2 separate regions of the Homo sapiens genome follow, and region 2 is linked to region 1. The links come from fine-mapping of genetic effects on gene expression. A gene starts in region 1. The other region holds a variant in brackets. All regions are shown on one strand. Distances are between the middles of the regions.

Region 1 (8,524 bases):
TTAGAAAATAACGCTGGAAAAACTCTTCTAGACATTGGCTTAGGCAAAGATTTTAAGACCAAAAACCCCAAAGCAAATCTAACAAAAACAAAAATAAATAGATATTACCTAATGAAAACACTTCGGCACAGCAAAATAATCAGCAGTGTAAACAGACACCTCACTGAATGGGAGAAAATATTCAACTATGCGTCCTACAAAGGACTAATATGCAGAATCTACAAGGAACTCAAATCAGTAAGAAAAAAAGAAATAATCCCATCAAAAAGTGGGCAAAGAACATGAATAGACAGTTCTCAAAAGAAGATACACAAATGACTAACACATGAAAAAGAATGCTCAACATCACTAATTATCAGGGAAATGCAGATTAAAACCACAATGAAATACCACCTTACTTCTGCAAGACTGGCCATAATTTACAAAGTCAAAAAATAGTAGATGTTTGCATAGATGTGATGAAAAGGGCACTTTTACACTGATGGTGGGAATATAAACTAGTACATCCACTGTGGAAAACTTTATGGAGATTCCTTAAAGAACTAAAAGTAAAACTACCATTTGATCCAGCAGTCCCACTATTGAGTATATATCCAGAAGAAAAGAAGTCATTATATGAAAAAGCCACTTGCATCTGCATGTTTATAGGAGCAAAATACACAATTGCAAAAATATGGAACCAGCCTAAATGCCCCTCGACTGACAAGTGGATAAAGAAAATGTGATATATTTACACCATGGAATACTACTCAGCCATAAAAAGGACTGAAGTAATGGCATTTGCAGCAATTTGTACGGGAGTTGGAGACCACTATTCCAAGTGAAGTAACTCAGGAATGGGAAACCAAATATCGTGTATGTTCTCACTTATAAGGGTTTGCTGAACTATGAGGATGCAAAGGCATAAGAATGATATAATGGGCCGGGTGCAGTGGCTCACAACTGTAATCCCAGCACTTTGGGAGGCCAAGGCAGGCGGATCATGAAGTCAGGAGATTGAGACCATCCTGGCTAACATGGTGAAACCCTGTCTCTACTAAAAATACAAAAAATTAGTCGTCGTGGCACGCGCCTGTAGTCCCAGCTACTCAGAGGTCTGAGGCAGGAGAATCGCTTGAACTTGGGAGGCAGAGGTTGCAGTGAGCTGAGATTGCGCCACTGCACTCTAGCCAGGGCGACAGAGCAAGACTGTCTCAAAAAAAAAAAAAAAATACATACATACATACATATATATATATATATATATATATATATATATATATAATGGACTTTGGGGACTCAAGGGAAAGTGGGAGGAGGGTGAGGGATAAAAGACTATACATTGGGTACAGTGTACACTGCTCAGGTGATGAGTACACAAAAATCTCAGAAATCACCACTAAATAACTTATCCATGTAACAAAAAAATGACCTGTTCCCCAAAAACTATTGCAATTTTTAAAAATGTAAACATTAGCCATGCGTGTTGATGCACACCTGTAGTCCCAGCTACTTAGGAAGCTGTGGCAAGAGTATCTCTTGAGCGTTGGAGGTCGAGGCTACAGTGAGCTATGATTGCACCACTGAACTTCATCCTGGGCAACAAAGTGAGCCCGTCTCAAACACACACACACACACACAACAAAAAATTGGTTTTGTCCTGGTACCTGGTTATTATAATTTGAAGCAGAAATTATTTTGTTTAGATTTTTTAATATTAAGAAGCATCTCCGTCGGGCGAGGTGGCTCACACCTCTAATCCCAGCACTTTAGGAGGCTGAGGTGGGCAGATCACCTGAGGTCGGGAGTTCAAGAACAGTCTGACAAACATGGAGAAACCCCGACTCTACTAAAAACACAAAATTAGCTGGGCATGGCGGCGCATGCCTGTGATCCCAGCTACTCAGGAGAGTGAGACACGAGAGTCACTTGAACCCAGGAGGCCAAGGTTGTGGTGAGCCGAGATCGCGCCATTGCACTCCAGCCTGGGCAACAAGAGCAAAACTGTCTCAAAAATAAAAAGTAAAAAAAAAAAAAGCATCTCTACTCACCATTAACTATACAATTAAGAGGTCACACCTTTGTTTCATCATCGTAGACAAGGTAAATATTACTAAAGAAAATGCCTGTCCATAAAAGGGATCTGGTGACAGAGGACAGCCTCTCCCAGAGTAACAGGCATCCAGGACTCCACTCTATCAACGATTTCTAAAACAATGGGTGTGAGCAAGGGCTAGGATGAGATGTGTGATTAAGTTCCTGAGCTGACGGCAAATTTAAAAGATGCCCTCTCAGCTCCTGGCTGCGGCCCATCCTCCCTGTAAGGTGCACGACTCCATGACGCTTTTCACTGACGGCACTACCTCTTGGCCATTACCACCTCCCACCAGATCCCATTCGCTCTGTTTTACCAGGGAAAGGTCTGCTCCAGTTAATGCCTTATCCTTCACAGTGATGTTCTTTGACTTTATAAAAACGGAGCCATTTGGTCAACAGGCTGCCCGTCGGATCCCGTGTCCTTCTGCACTGCTAATATCTAGCTGTGGCCCTGCTTTAAAACCCAAATGCAAACATCTCTTCCATGAAGCCCTTCCTGATTGCCAGTGCCCTCAACAGTGGAATAAGCTGCCAGGCATCTTAGAGATCTAGACCCGTGGTTCTCAACCCCCACTTCCCCAGGCCTCCTGAGAAGCTTTTAATAGGTGCATCAGCCCTGGATTCTTACCGGCAGGACTGAGAGGGAGCCTTAACGCTTGTGTTCTTCTAATAGTGTGCACAGGGTTGACGGGAAACACACACACACACAGTGCAGAACCATTCCACGAAGCTGTGTATCCGGAATTGGTTCCCTCTGAAGAGTTCCTGGTCCCGGTCCTGCCGCGGACCTTCACGGCATTATAGTTCTTAAACATGGTGTGTCCGGAGTTTGTTCCTTCAAATGTTCAGGTGTGTCCGAAGTTTTTTCTTTCTAGAGAGTTCGTGGTCTATGCACGACTTGATGAGTGAGGCCGCGGACCTTCGCAGGGAGTGTTACAGCTCTTAAAGGTGGCGCATCCGCGTTGTTCCTTCCTCCCAGCGGGTTCGTAGTTTCGCCGACCTCAGGAGTGAAGCCACAGACCTTCGCAGGGAGTGTTACACCTCTTAAAAGTGGTGCGTCTGGAGTTGTTTGCTCCTCCCTGTGGGTTCGTGGTGTCGCTGACTTCAGGAGTGAAGCCACAGACCTTCACAGTGAGTGTTATGGCTCTTAAAGGTGGCGGCTCCAGAGTTGTTTCTTGTGGTGGCTTCCTGGTCTCGCTGGTTTACAGGAGTGAACCTGCAGACCTTCACTGTGAGTGTTAAAGCTCATAAAGGTAGTGTGGACCTAAAAGGTGAGCAACAGCAAAATTTATTGCAAAGAGCGAAACAACAAAACCCCAACACCATCGAAGGGGACCCAAACGCAGCTGCCGCTGGCTCGGATGGCCAGCTTTTATTCCCTCATTGGCCCCGCCCACATCCTCCTGATTGGTCCTGCCCACATCCTCCTGATTGGTCCATTTTACAGAGCGCTGATTGGTCCATTTTACAGAGTGCTGATTGGTCCATTTTACAGAGTGCTGATTGGTCCGTTTTTACAGAGTGCTGATTGATGTGTTTACAAACCTTTAGCTAGACATAGAGCATTGATTGGTGCATTTACAATCCTTTGGCTAGAGAGAAAAGTTCTCCAAGTCCCCACCAATTAGCTGGACACAGAGCACTGATTGGTGCATTTTTACAGAGTGCTGATTGGTGTGTTTACAAACCTTTAGCTAGACACAGAGTGCAGATTGATGCTTTTACAATCCTTTAGCTAGACAGAAAAGTTCTCCAAGTCCCCATCCGACCCAGAAGCCCAGCGGGTTTCACCTCTCAGTAGCTTACAGAAGAGGACCCTGCTGCCACAGCACAATACCACAAAGAAAGTCATGCTCTCCTCAGCAGGTAGCCCCCTTCTCCGGGACAGGAACTTTGTTTCCTTCTTAGCTCTATCGCCAGCACCTAGAACAGTGCCCACCTGTCAGATCTGTTATCAGATGGGAACATGGCAGATTTGTTGAATGAATGAAGGAATGAATGAACTATGTGACACTCAAACTTAGCCACCAAACTTAAACTAAAAAAACTGGGTTGTGGTCCCTGATGGACCGTTGGCACCTTCTTCCTTTGCTGGACGGTGATCCGTGGCTGTTTCTGCGGTGTGTTCGCAGTGGTTGCCTGGCTTGGTAACAAACACTCTTCGGAGCCACAGCCTGTTCTCAGGGTCCTCGCCGCCTCCCAGGCCCTGCGATCTCTTTGCATCTCAGGAGGTCCAGGTTGGTTGCAGTCCTCTTGGGTGACTCAGGAACCAGCCTCTCCTGAAGCACACAGCTTAGGGAGTTCCTGAGGCCAGAGACATCTCCACGGGAAAGTCAAAGGCCTGGAGGAAGTGCGGACCTGACGACAGATGCCCCGCACGCTGGCCGGGACCGGGAAGGGCGGTCAAGGGTGGAAAGGGGCTGGCGGCTGCCAGGCCTGGCGGAGTGGAGCGGGGCGGGGCGCAGCGGGGCGGGGCGGGCCTGGAGCTGCACCTGCTTCTGGGCGGACGCACTTGGCGCGCGGCGCGGGCTGCAGACGGCTGCGAGGCGCTGGGCACAGGTCAGACGTCCGTACCCGCAGGGGGCTCGAACCTGGAGGAGGGCTCGAAGGGAGAGGGGGCCCCGCCAAGGAGCGGGGCTGTGATGGAGAGGAGGTTCCGACTCGCAGGGGACCTGCGGGGGAGGGGACGCGGACAGGGAGGGGCTCTGGGACAGGGGTGAAGGCTGCGCTAGGGGAGGACGGGAGGGGATGGAGGGCCCTGGTGTCGCGGAAGCCCAGCTGGGGCCCCCTCCGGGCTGCGGAACCGGTGCGCACACTACTCCCACCGCCCCCGAGTGCCTCTGTCCGGCTGGCCGCGGCCCTGGAACGAATATTGCTCAGTCCCCCGCGAGTCAGGTCTGCCGCGTTGCCCGGTGAGGGGAAGGTGTGAAGCCCCGGGCCTCCGTCTGCCCGGTGAGTCCGGGGACGCGCGCCCCCGGGGATGCCATCTGGCTCCTGGGCTGTGACCAGTCACAGCTCACATAGCTCTGGGCACTGGTACCGACTGCCTTTCCTTGTTAGCTGCGATACACAAATACACGAGCCAGATCCTTTCCTGAGGCCAGGAAGCCTGGAATCTAATAACACCGGGCGGTGGATAAAGTCCCCCGAGCCAGTGCTTAGCTTCCGTTAATGGAGCCATGGATGGAAGCGGATGTCAGGCGCAGTGGGGGAGAAATTTGCGGGGGTGGCCCTGTCTAGGGCCAGAGAAACAACCTCTGAAGCTTTGATCCAGCCCTAGAGGGAAGAAAGATGTGAGTTTCAGCCAGGGAAACGTAGCACTTTAAGAAATAGAAACCCTTTCAAAATTTGAGGGCAGGTAGCTCTCCTAAAAGTTGCAGAAATGGCCACTTCTTTTTTTTTTTTTTTTTTTTTTTGAGACGGAGTCTCGCTCTGTCGCCCAGGCTGGAGTGCAGTGGCGCAATCTCGGATCACTGCAAGCTCCACCTCCCGGGTTCACACCATTCTCCTGCCTCAGCCTCCCGAGTAGCTAGGACTACTGGCGCCCGCCACCACGCCCGGCTAATTTTTTGTATTTTTTTTTTTTTTGGTAGAGACGGGGTTTCACCGTGTTAGCCAGGATGGTCTCGATCTCCTGACCTCATGATCCACCCGCCTCAGCCTCCCAAAGTGCTGGGATTACAGGCGTGAACCACCGCGCCCAGCTAGAAATGGCCACTTCTTTCACGTTCTCTTCGACCGCTTTCTGCGGTGTCTGCCCTTTTCCTCCTCCTGCACCTTTTTGTCTCCTAGGGTCGCATAGCCTTCCAAACAGGCCTGCCTACAGCATTTTACCTGCAATTTTACACTCATTTTAATAGAAAGGATGGCTTATTGTTCATGAGAGACGTGTACTGTTTTTAACCAGATGTGTAATATCTTCAGTATAACCTGGATGTTGTGCAGTGGGAAGTTATGGAAAGAATCAGGACACGTGGTTAGGTAGGGGCCCAGGGGCGTCAGACTTAGCTCTTTGTGACAGTGAGCTTCTTGGTTTAATAAGGATATTGGCTCCCTCTGTTCCTGGGGTTTCTGGGAAAAGATATGGAACTGATATGAAGGTTTTATTGAATATGGCCCACTGATTTTACAAGTGGAGGTGACTGAGATAAGCAGAAGGTGAGGCATGACCTCTGGCTGTGCATTATTTGTTCTGATATTACAGGAGCCAAGCATTCCATTTCCTTCTTTTTAAAGAGCTTTGATTTCCTCTCACATCTTCATGAAGATGGAAACAGTGCCCCCACTTACTTATCCTCAGGCCACACCTGTTCCCATTTATTCCATGAGTTCCTCCCACACCCTTCTGGTTGATGTTGGTTGTGATGGTCGAGGTAATTGAATCTCACATTTGGCACCAGTTATTTCTGTTTCTCATCTCCCCCCTACCTGCAGTTAAACATCAGCTGCTATACTTAACTGTTCAAAGTACAGATGTTACCTGTGTTGGGTGTAATCAAAAGATTATCTCTTTTCCTCAAATGAAAAATGGGTGAGGACAGTTTCACCACACATAGAGTCACTCCCCTAGCCAAAGTCCTTGCTATTGCAAAACTTTTTACTGTAAGAGAATTAAAGTCACTAGTGTGTCATCAACTAATGGTACTTATAGACACATTCCATATTTGTTTCTATAGAAAGATCATAAGACAAACACTAGATTATTCCCAGTATGAGACCATACTGAATATGAACAATTAGAGGCCACAGGTGAGTGCTGTCCTCCTCACACTTTCTTTGAACTCTTAAGCTTCTACTCTTTTAACCAGCTACCCCTCTCCCCAAAACCTTCACTGAGGCTAGAAACAAACACAAATAGACTATTTGAATTTTAGCAAATTTTATCTCTCTTTTCTATTCTCTTGTGTAAAACTTAAATGGCCACAAGCTACACTACTGGAGGAAAAAGGAAAGCTAAAAGGTCTATCAGCCTTCTGTATGTGATGCAGAGTTCAACTGAATATAGCAAGGTACACACCCGCATTCTCCTTGCCAGGACTTAGATATCATAAGCCATTATCTTGCTGGTTGTTGAAATCATAATGGGGCTTTATAGAGCACAAGGCGATGTTTGTAAACAGCACTGTTCAGGTCAGATTAGAATCCGTATTTCAAAAATGAGGAGATGGAAACAGAGATATTGTGTATGTGGTCCAGGGTTAGCCAGTAATTAAATGGCAGAGCCAGAACTCAAACCAACATTCCTTCCAGAATACCACAGCTGCCTCTGGAGTGGTTTTTGTTGTTCTTGTTGAATTTTGTGATGGAAGATTGTGATTTGTTTTTCCCGAACACTTAATATGTTTTCTGACTTGAATTATCAGAATCTAAATTTAGAAACTCTCTCGTTTGGTATATTTCATGCCCATCTTTGTTCCATATAATTACAAAAATATCTTAGAGCTGAGTATAACCTTAAAGATTGTCAAGTCCAATCTTGTGGTTTTTCAAGGAAGAAAACCGGATTTAAGAAAAATAAAGCAAGTACCTCATGTTGCTTCCCCAAATCTACTTCATTGGAGAATTACAGCTAAAAACAATGTTCAGATTTTTGCTCCTTCTGTCATGTGGTCCCTTGAGAATTTGCCAAATGTATAAATCCAGTGACTTATTTTGATGTACTCTTTTGGTTTGAGGTCTGTGACAGCAAACATAACCTCCTTGAATCCCAGCCTCAAATGCCTATGGACCTTCTGTTCTAACTGTTATTATAACTGTAGCCGTTATTATAGTGGCTAAAGTTCTAACTTCTGTTCTAACTGTGCTCCTGGTTCCATGACAAAGAGAGCTTTACTTGTCTTATTCCTAGCACAGTGCCCATAGCAGGCATACATAAAATGTGGTATGTCAGATAAACATCTGAAAAAGTGTGAGATGTCATTAGACGTTCATTCAGCTACAAGAACAGAAAACCCTACTACAGCGGCTTAAACAAGTAAGGAGTTTGTTTTTCTCAGAGAACGAGAAGTCTGGAGGTGAGAAGGCTGGGGCTGGGAAAGGGGTTCCGATATGAACGTCATCTGAGACAGGCTCCTTGTGTCTTCCCGCACCACCCTCCTTAGCATGGAGCTTTCATACTCACTTCCGCAAGTTGCAGCAGAAAGACGGGCAGAGGCATGCTCCAGAAGAGTCTTGTCTTGTCTTTTCTTTTCTTTTCTTTTCTCTCTTCTTTTCTTTTCTCTCTCTCTCTCTCTGTCTCATCTCTTTCTTTCTTTTGACTCAGAGTCTCTCTCAGTGGCACAATCTCGGCTCACTGCAACCTCCGCTTCCTGGGTTCAAGTGATTCTCCTGCCTCAGCCTCCAAGTAGCTGGGATTACAGACGTGCACCACCACGCCCAGCTAATTTTTGTATTTTTAGTAGAGACGGGGTTTCACCATGTTGGTCAGGCTGGTCTTGAACTCCTGACC
Region 2 (8,000 bases), 43 kb after region 1:
GTCTCTGCTCAGATTCTGCTTTCAGCCTAATTGTTTCTGTCTGGGATTTCTTTCACTGCTCACTTGGCAGGGAAGCCCAGAGATTATTCTATCAGCCACACTCCGACTTAAGTGATGATGTCTTGCTCATCTCTGCTCCTGGACAAACCTCCTGGGGATCTATGTGTGTGTGGTTGTGTTCATTGATTCTTCTACCCTCAACCCCAAACCCCTAAAAGGAACAACAATGGCAAGATGTCTACACAGGTGACTCAGCACACACCCTACTTTATACTGAAGCAGCTGCACCTGAGGCAGCAAAGTAGCTCTGCTGACCCGCGGGCCACCCTCACCTCACCCCATCTCCGCTTCGCTCATGCCTTTGGGTTATTCCTTGCTCCTATTTGTCTTAGAGCTACTCTTCCCTCTAAAACATCCATCCTCATTTCCCTGCAGGGATCCTGGCAGAGCAGTTTGTTCCGGATGGGCCCCACCTGCACCTCTACCATGAGAACCACTGGATAAAGTTAATGAATTGGCAGCACAGCACCATGTACCTATTCTTTGCAGTCTCAGGAATTGTTGACATGCTCACCTATCTGGTCAGCCACGTTCCCTTGGGGGTGGACAGACTGGTTATGGCTGTGGCAGTATTCATGGAAGGTAATTTTGTGGAACGGATGGAGAGGAAGGAGAGCCTGACAAGTCATATTTATGAAGGATCAGAGTACAAAATATCAGAAATGTTGCAAATATAATAACCTCCCCCAGAAAATCCACATCTCTGGACTGCCAAAACCTGAATAGGACCTAGTGCTCTACTCTGGATGGGCCAGGTGACATATTCCCTAAAGTAGCTCATGAAAGCTTTGAGGCTTGAAGGCAGCTACCAAAGCCCCGGCTAACACTGCAGGAGTCCTCCTCGCCTTCCCACTGCCGCCAGCAGCCCCTGCTCACACACGTGCATATTCCTCGGTGTGGACGTATGTGCGCACATACACATGCGGGTACACACAATGCCCCAGCTGGTTGAATGCCACCATGCAGGGGATACACCCCTTTGGTTAAGCGAAACCACACTCTACCTTTTGCCCAGGGAGGTACCGTCTTGCCTCCATCACAAGCCTCAGGAGACCCACTCCACTGCCAGGGGAGCGCTGCCAGTATGACTCACACTGACTGGGGTATGAAAATACATTTTGTCATCTAACAACCTCACTTCTGTACCTCAGCAAGAGTCGAAAAAGGTTGAGGGCAAAACTGAATTTCAAGTATACACACACAGTCTGTTACAAATCAGCAACATGCTTCAGCCGGCCCATCCTATACTGACCCCACCATGGGTTCCATAGAGATTTTAAGATACAATCCCTTGCTGCTTTATACTCCTAACATACTCATGAAATACACTTACTCGCATCTGTTTGCTGCCTGTAATGTTATGTACTAACTGCCTAAATGCTGAAGAACCTAGCTGAGACAGGTGTAGGAGGAAACTTCGGTGATGGTGAAAGCCAAGCGTAGCCCTGACAGCTGCCATCTGGTTTGTGGCAGGTTTCCTCTTCTACTACCACGTCCACAACCGGCCTCCGCTGGACCAGCACATCCACTCACTCCTGCTGTATGCTCTGTTCGGAGGGTGTGTTAGTATCTCCCTAGAGGTGATCTTCCGGGACCACATTGTGCTGGAACTTTTCCGAACCAGTCTCATCATTCTTCAGGGAACCTGGTTCTGGCAGGTGATTTTCCACACCCAGGCCCCTCGCTGGTCTGGATGGAGAAGCCCCCACCGAGCGCATCCCAGAGAAATCCCTGACGAGAATATGGGGTCTGAAAATGCAGCATTAACATGCCATGCAAAGGGGTTTAGATGACCCTTTTCCCCCCATGCCCGCCCTTTGACTCCTAGTTTTATCCATTAACATCCAGAGGATGCATTAGCAATCCAAAATTTAAAGCATGCACGGTGACGTTCAGCTGCCCTCCCCAGAGGATGGGCTGATGCCTTTCACAGGCTCTGCTTGCTAAACTGTCCACTGGAAACGTGGGCCCTGAAGTTCTGTTTTGTTGTTTGTTTTGAGAGAGACTCACCCTGTCACCCAGGCTAGAATGCAGTGGCGCAATCTTGGCTGACTGCAACCTCCATCTCCCAGGTTCAAGCGATTCTCATGCCTCAGCCTCCTGAGTAGCTCAGGTTACAGGTGCCCGCCACCACACCTGGCTAATTTTTTTGTATTTTTAGAGACAGGGTTTCACCATGTTGGCCAGGCTGGTCTCGAACTCCTGAACTCGAGTGATCCGCCTGCCTCAGCCTCCCAAAGAGCTGGGATTATAGGCGTGAGCCACTGCACCTGGACTTGTGTTTTTAAGTAAGCCTATACAACCAAAATTAAGCTGAAGCCTTTTTTTTTTTTTTTTTTTTCTGAGACAGAGTCTCGCTTTGTCGCCCAGGCTGGAGTGCAGTGGCGCAATCTTGGCTCACTGCAAGCTCCACCTCCCAGGTTCACGCCATTCTCCTGCCTCAACCTCCCAAGTAGCTGGGACTACAGGCGCCCGCCACCACGCCTGGCTAATTTTTTGTATTTTTAGTAGAGATGGGGTTTCACCGTGTTAGCCAGGATGGTTTCAATCTCCTGACCTCATTATCCACCCACCTCAGCCTCCCAAAGTGCTAGGATTACAGGCATGAGCCACCGCGCCCGGCTTTTTTTTTTTTTTTAAGACAGTCTCGCACTGTGGCCCGGGCTGGTGTGCAGTGTCATGATCTCGGCTCACTGCAACCTCCGCCTCCCAGGTTCAAGCAATTCTCCTGCCTCAGCCTCCCAGTTAGCTAGGATTATAGGTGCCCACCACCATGCCCAGCTCATTTTTTGTATTTTTAGTAGAAACAGGGTTTCACTATGTTGGTCAGGCTGGTCTTGAACTCCTAACCTTGTAAACCGCCTGCCTCAGCCTCCCGAAGTGCTGGTATTACAGACGTAAGCCACCATACCTGGCCAGAGCCATTTTTCTATGTGAAAAGGCCTTTCTATGCTAACGAAGTGTGGGAACTATGAGGCGGTGGTCACACATGGGCCACTTCGGTGGCCACAGGAGAACGGCTAGATTGCTTCTCAGGACGACCAACCACAAGACCAACTTCTCTCTGTAATCCCCTAGATTGGGTTTGTGCTGTTCCCACCTTTTGGAACACCCGAATGGGACCA[G/A]AAGGATGATGCCAACCTCATGTTCATCACCATGTGCTTCTGCTGGCACTACCTGGCTGCCCTCAGCATTGTGGCCGTCAACTATTCTCTTGTTTACTGGTATGTCTGAGACTTCAGTGAAGCTTTTCCTCCTAACTCTAAGCAGGACTGATGTGATTAACTTGCACCATCTGATGAGTGCCGACTACAGGCCAAATTCTGTGCAAGGTACTCTCATGCAGGGAAGGTATCACTACCCTTATTTGCAAACAAGGGGAATGAGGCTTTTCAAAGTTTAATGACCTGAGGGCTTTTCAAAGTCATAGTAACCTGAGGGACCCAGGTTTCAAATGCAGGTCTCACAGATTTTAAGCCTATGGTGTGGTGGGGAATACTGAAATGGGAATCAGTACTGGATGGCAGTCCCCACGTAAAGGGTTCATTCTGGACCCATCATCTTATTTCCAGACCTGCCCTCCCTGCTTCCCAGAAATGATGTGACAGTCAAAAAATAAACCAGAGCAGAATGTTAAGACAAACTGCACTCCACCCCTCACTGAAGGCTCCTTAGAGGTATACAGATAACAGCTATGGACTCCTATGCACTTGCTGCGCCCCAGGCCCAGTGGAAAGCAGCTACACTCTATTATCCCATTTAATCTTCACTGCTTTATGAAGTATGCACTGTTATTTTTTACAGGTGGAGAAAACAAGGCTTCAAAAAGCTGAGTAACTTGACCAAGGTCACCCCACTAATAAATGGCAGAGCCTCTCAGTGCAAGGGTGAATTTTAGCAAATGGTATTACCAGTTCTATTTGCTGTTCGGCTGCCTCTACCTTTTCTTCTAGGTCATTTCTCTAGATCCCAAGCAGAATATTAGGTTGGTGCAAAAGTAACGGTGATTTTTGCCATTATTTCATCCAGAAAGAGTTCCACACGGACCAAAGAGAAGGGAGCTCAAGTCAGTTTCTTTTAGTTCTCCTGCCCAGCCACTGAAACAGTAAACCAAGATAGGCAAGACCTTGGCCTCAATTATGACATTCAGTAGTTTCCACCATCGCCCCTTTATCTACTGATGAATATTTCCTAAGAAGTCTAGTTTATAGACATGTAATCACAGTATTTGATAGAAATATAAAGAAAATAGTTTAAGAATCAGTAGATGCCTTCACATCCTTGGTAATGGATTAAGGGAATCTCTGGCTAATTGGCTCTTACTCTTTCTCTATTAAAGCCTTTTGACTCGGATGAAGAGACACGGAAGGGGAGAAATCATTGGAATTCAGAAGCTGAATTCAGATGACACTTACCAGACCGCCCTCTTGAGTGGCTCAGATGAGGAATGAGCCGAGATGCGGAGGGCGCAGATGTCCCACTGCACAGCTGGAATGAATGGAGTTCATCCCCTCCACCTGAATGCCTGCTGTGGTCTGATCTTAAGGGTCTATATATTTGCACCTCCTCATTCAACACAGGGCTGGAGGTTCTACAACAGGAAATCAGGCCTACAGCATCCTGTGTATCTTGCAGTTGGGATTTTTAAACATACTATAAAGTCTGTGTTGGTATAGTACCCTTCATAAGGAAAAATGAAGTAATGCCTATAAGTAGCAGGCCTTTGTGCCTCAGTGTCAAGAGAAATCAAGAGATGCTAAAAGCTTTACAATGGAAGTGGCCTCATGGATGAATCCGGGGTATGAGCCCAGGAGAACGTGCTGCTTTTGGTAACTTATCCCTTTTTCTCTTAAGAAAGCAGGTACTTTCTTATTAGAAATATGTTAGAATGTGTAAGCAAACGACAGTGCCTTTAGAATTACAATTCTAACTTACATATTTTTTGAAAGTAAAATAATTCACAAGCTTTGGTATTTTAAAATTATTGTTAAACATATCATAACTAATCATACCAGGGTACTGCAATACCACTGTTTATAAGTGACAAAATTAGGCCAAAGGTGATTTTTTTTTAAATCAGGAAGCTGGTTACTGGCTCTACTGAGAGTTGGAGCCCTGATGTTCTGATTCTTCAAAGTCACCCTAAAAGAAGATCTGACAGGAAAGCTGTATAATGAGATAGAAAAACGTCAGGTATGGAAGGCTTTCAGTTTTAATATGGCTGAAAGCAAAGGATAACGAATTCAGAATTAGTAATGTAAAATCTTGATACCCTAATCTTGCTTCTGGATCTGTTCTTTTTTTAAAAAAACTTCCTTCACCGCGCCTATAATCCTAGCACTTTGGGAGGCCGAGGCAGGCAGATCACGGGGTCAGGAGATCAAGACCATCCTGGCTAACATGGTGAAACCCCGTCTCTACTGAAAATACAAAAAATTAGCCGGGTGTGGTGGCGGGCGCCTGTAGTTCCAGCTACTCGGGAGGCTGAGGCAAGAGAATGGCATGAACCCGGTAGGGGAGCTTGCAGTGAGCCCAGATCATGCCACTGTACTCCAGCCTAGGTGACAGAGCAAGACTCTGTCTCAAAAACAAGCAAACAGACTTCCTTCAACAAATATTTATTAAATATCCACTTTGCAACAGCACTGAAATGGCTGTAAGGACTCCTGAGATATGTGTCCAGCAAGGAGTTTACAGTCAAACAGGAGAGACATGCCTGTAGTTACATCCAGTGTGATGGGTGCTGAGAGGCAAGTACAAACCACGATGAGAAAAAGGAGAGGAGGGGAAATGCAGAGCTTGCCCTGTAGAAAAAGCACATCCCAGGTAGAGAGGGTAGCACATTAAAAAATGAAAGCATAAAAAAATACGGAGAACTTAAAAAGATTAAGTTCTACAAACTGATAAAAGTGAGTTAGGACCAAGTTGATGGGCCTTAGAGACCAAATAATACTTTCCGTGTGCATAGTATTTTTCAGATTCTGAGATGCACCCTATCTCATTTGATTCTCACAACCGCTTGTAATGTGTAAGAGCATGAGGTCTTTCAGAAAAGCTGGCTGGCCTAGCAGGGCGCGGTGGCTCACGCCTGTAATCCCAGCACTTTTGGAGGCCGAGGCGGGTGGATCATGAGGTCAAGAGATCGAGACCATCCTGGCCAACATGGTGAAACCCTGTCTCTACTAAAAATATAAAAATTAGCTTGGTGTGGTGGTGAGCACCTGTAGTCCCAGCTACTTGGGAGGCTGAGGCAGGAGAATCACTTGAACCCAGTAGGCGGAGGTTGCACAGTGAGCCGAGATTATGCCACTGCACTCCAATCTGGCAACAGAGTGAGACTCCATCTCAAAAAAAAAGAAAAGTTGGCTGGCCTAAGACCACACAGATGCTAGGTGGCAAAGCCAGTCTTATGACTCCAAAACCAGGCATCTGTCTCACCATTCTAACCCTGCTACGTCACACAAATCCAGGAGAGAGAATTTACATAAAGCACTGCATGCGCTTTGGAAGAAATGCTGTACTTAATTAAGTGAAGGTAACCTCCCAGAGTTAGCCAGCCTTTCAGAGTTGAAGTCACAGCTTAGGGATTCAAAATGAGCTACTAAAAACACTAATTTAGTTATTAGAGAACTCCGGGTTCCACTTTCAGGATCCACCTTGGTTGGCCAGTGGAAAAACACAAGTATTCTTCATTCAACAAGTACTGAAGGACCTATTATTGGCAATGAACGTAACATGTGTTCTTTCCTTGGGGACTGCAGGTGGGCAGAAGGACCTGTTCAGTTTTACTTTCAAAGAAAAGATCCACATTTGAGGTTTCTTTAAGTGTACCATATTTTAAGAAAGAAAATGTACTATTTTCTCCAGAGTGAGGGGCTAAGGTGTGAAGAACAGATATAAAATATTAAAATGTATTCAGATGCCCTTCACACAGCAAGGCTTGTGATGCCTTCATGGAAGTGATCAACCCTATCATAAACATTGTTAGATGTGGTATTAAAGTATAAACTGATGACAGTACTATTCTCCACATCCTGTCTTAGATATGTTTTCTGAATAATTTTACCCATATCTGTCAACCAGAGGCTCAATGGTTGCCACCAGAAGTCCTTTTGAAATTGTTCCCTACAAAACACCCACCATGGCTGGGTGCAGTGGCTCACGCCTGTAATCCCAGCACTTTGGGAGGCTGAGGCAGACAGATCACCTGAGGTGACAAGTTGGAGACCAGCCTAGCCAAAATGGTGAAACCCCATTTCTACCAAAAATACAAAAATTAGCAGGGCGTGGTGGCACGTGCCTGTGATTGATCCCAACTACTCAGGAGGCTGAGGCAGGAGAATCACTTGAACCCAGGAGGCGGAGGTTGCAGTGAGCTGAGATCTTGCCGCTGCACTCCAGCCTGGGCTACAGAGTGAGACTCCATCTCAAAAACAAAAACAAAAACAAAACACTCACCATAGCTGTGCCATTCATCTATCAGAAACCTGAAGCCAGCATATGAAGGAAGCAAGTGTGGCACAAATCCTGGGCTGTCACCGTAAACAGCTCCAGTAGGAAGTTCCCATTCTCCGCTATTGCCATTCCACCCACAGGCTGGATAGTGCCGAAGTTACACTTCTGAGGAGTCAGCATCCTGACGCAGCCTAAACTTTACACTCACTCCCTGCTCTCCAGAATGCACACGTCTGCCTGTGCAAAAACGACAAGCAGAGTCAGGTGACCTCAGCTAACAGGAATGTGGGCAGGGCTGCGGCTGAATGCCAGAGCTACTTTTATTAAATTCCTTGTTAAGTAAATTCAAAAGGGGTTTGTTTGTAGCTGGCAGTAAATACCTAAGACAAGATCTCTGGAATTTCTACCTTTTTTTTTTTTTAATTTAAAAACTGTCACATGGCTTTCTATGTGAAATGTGATTCTTGAAAATAACAGATACGCAA

What was found.
Region 2: its variant is fine-mapped to the expression of TMEM45B in whole blood (INTERVAL, PIP 0.99).

Annotation. Positions count from the first base shown.
Region 1 is chr11:129,811,264-129,819,787 of GRCh38, forward strand. TMEM45B (transmembrane protein 45B) reads left to right here and starts at 4,585. Exons shown (of 6, transcript NM_138788.5): 1 at 4,585-4,635. LOC124902793 (a long non-coding RNA gene) reads right to left here and starts at 3,424. Exons shown (of 2, transcript XR_007062952.1): 1 at 2,705-3,424.
Region 2 is chr11:129,854,175-129,862,174 of GRCh38, forward strand. TMEM45B (transmembrane protein 45B) reads left to right here. Exons shown (of 6, transcript NM_138788.5): 3 at 436-642; 4 at 1,534-1,718; 5 at 3,139-3,284; 6 at 4,400-5,829. The coding sequence ends at 4,511. Among named protein-coding and RNA genes, the nearest start is that of NFRKB, 37 kb to the right of the region's middle. RefSeq lists enhancers at 7,554-8,000, 7,660-7,954. The variant G/A (reference allele first, on the strand shown) is at 3,186.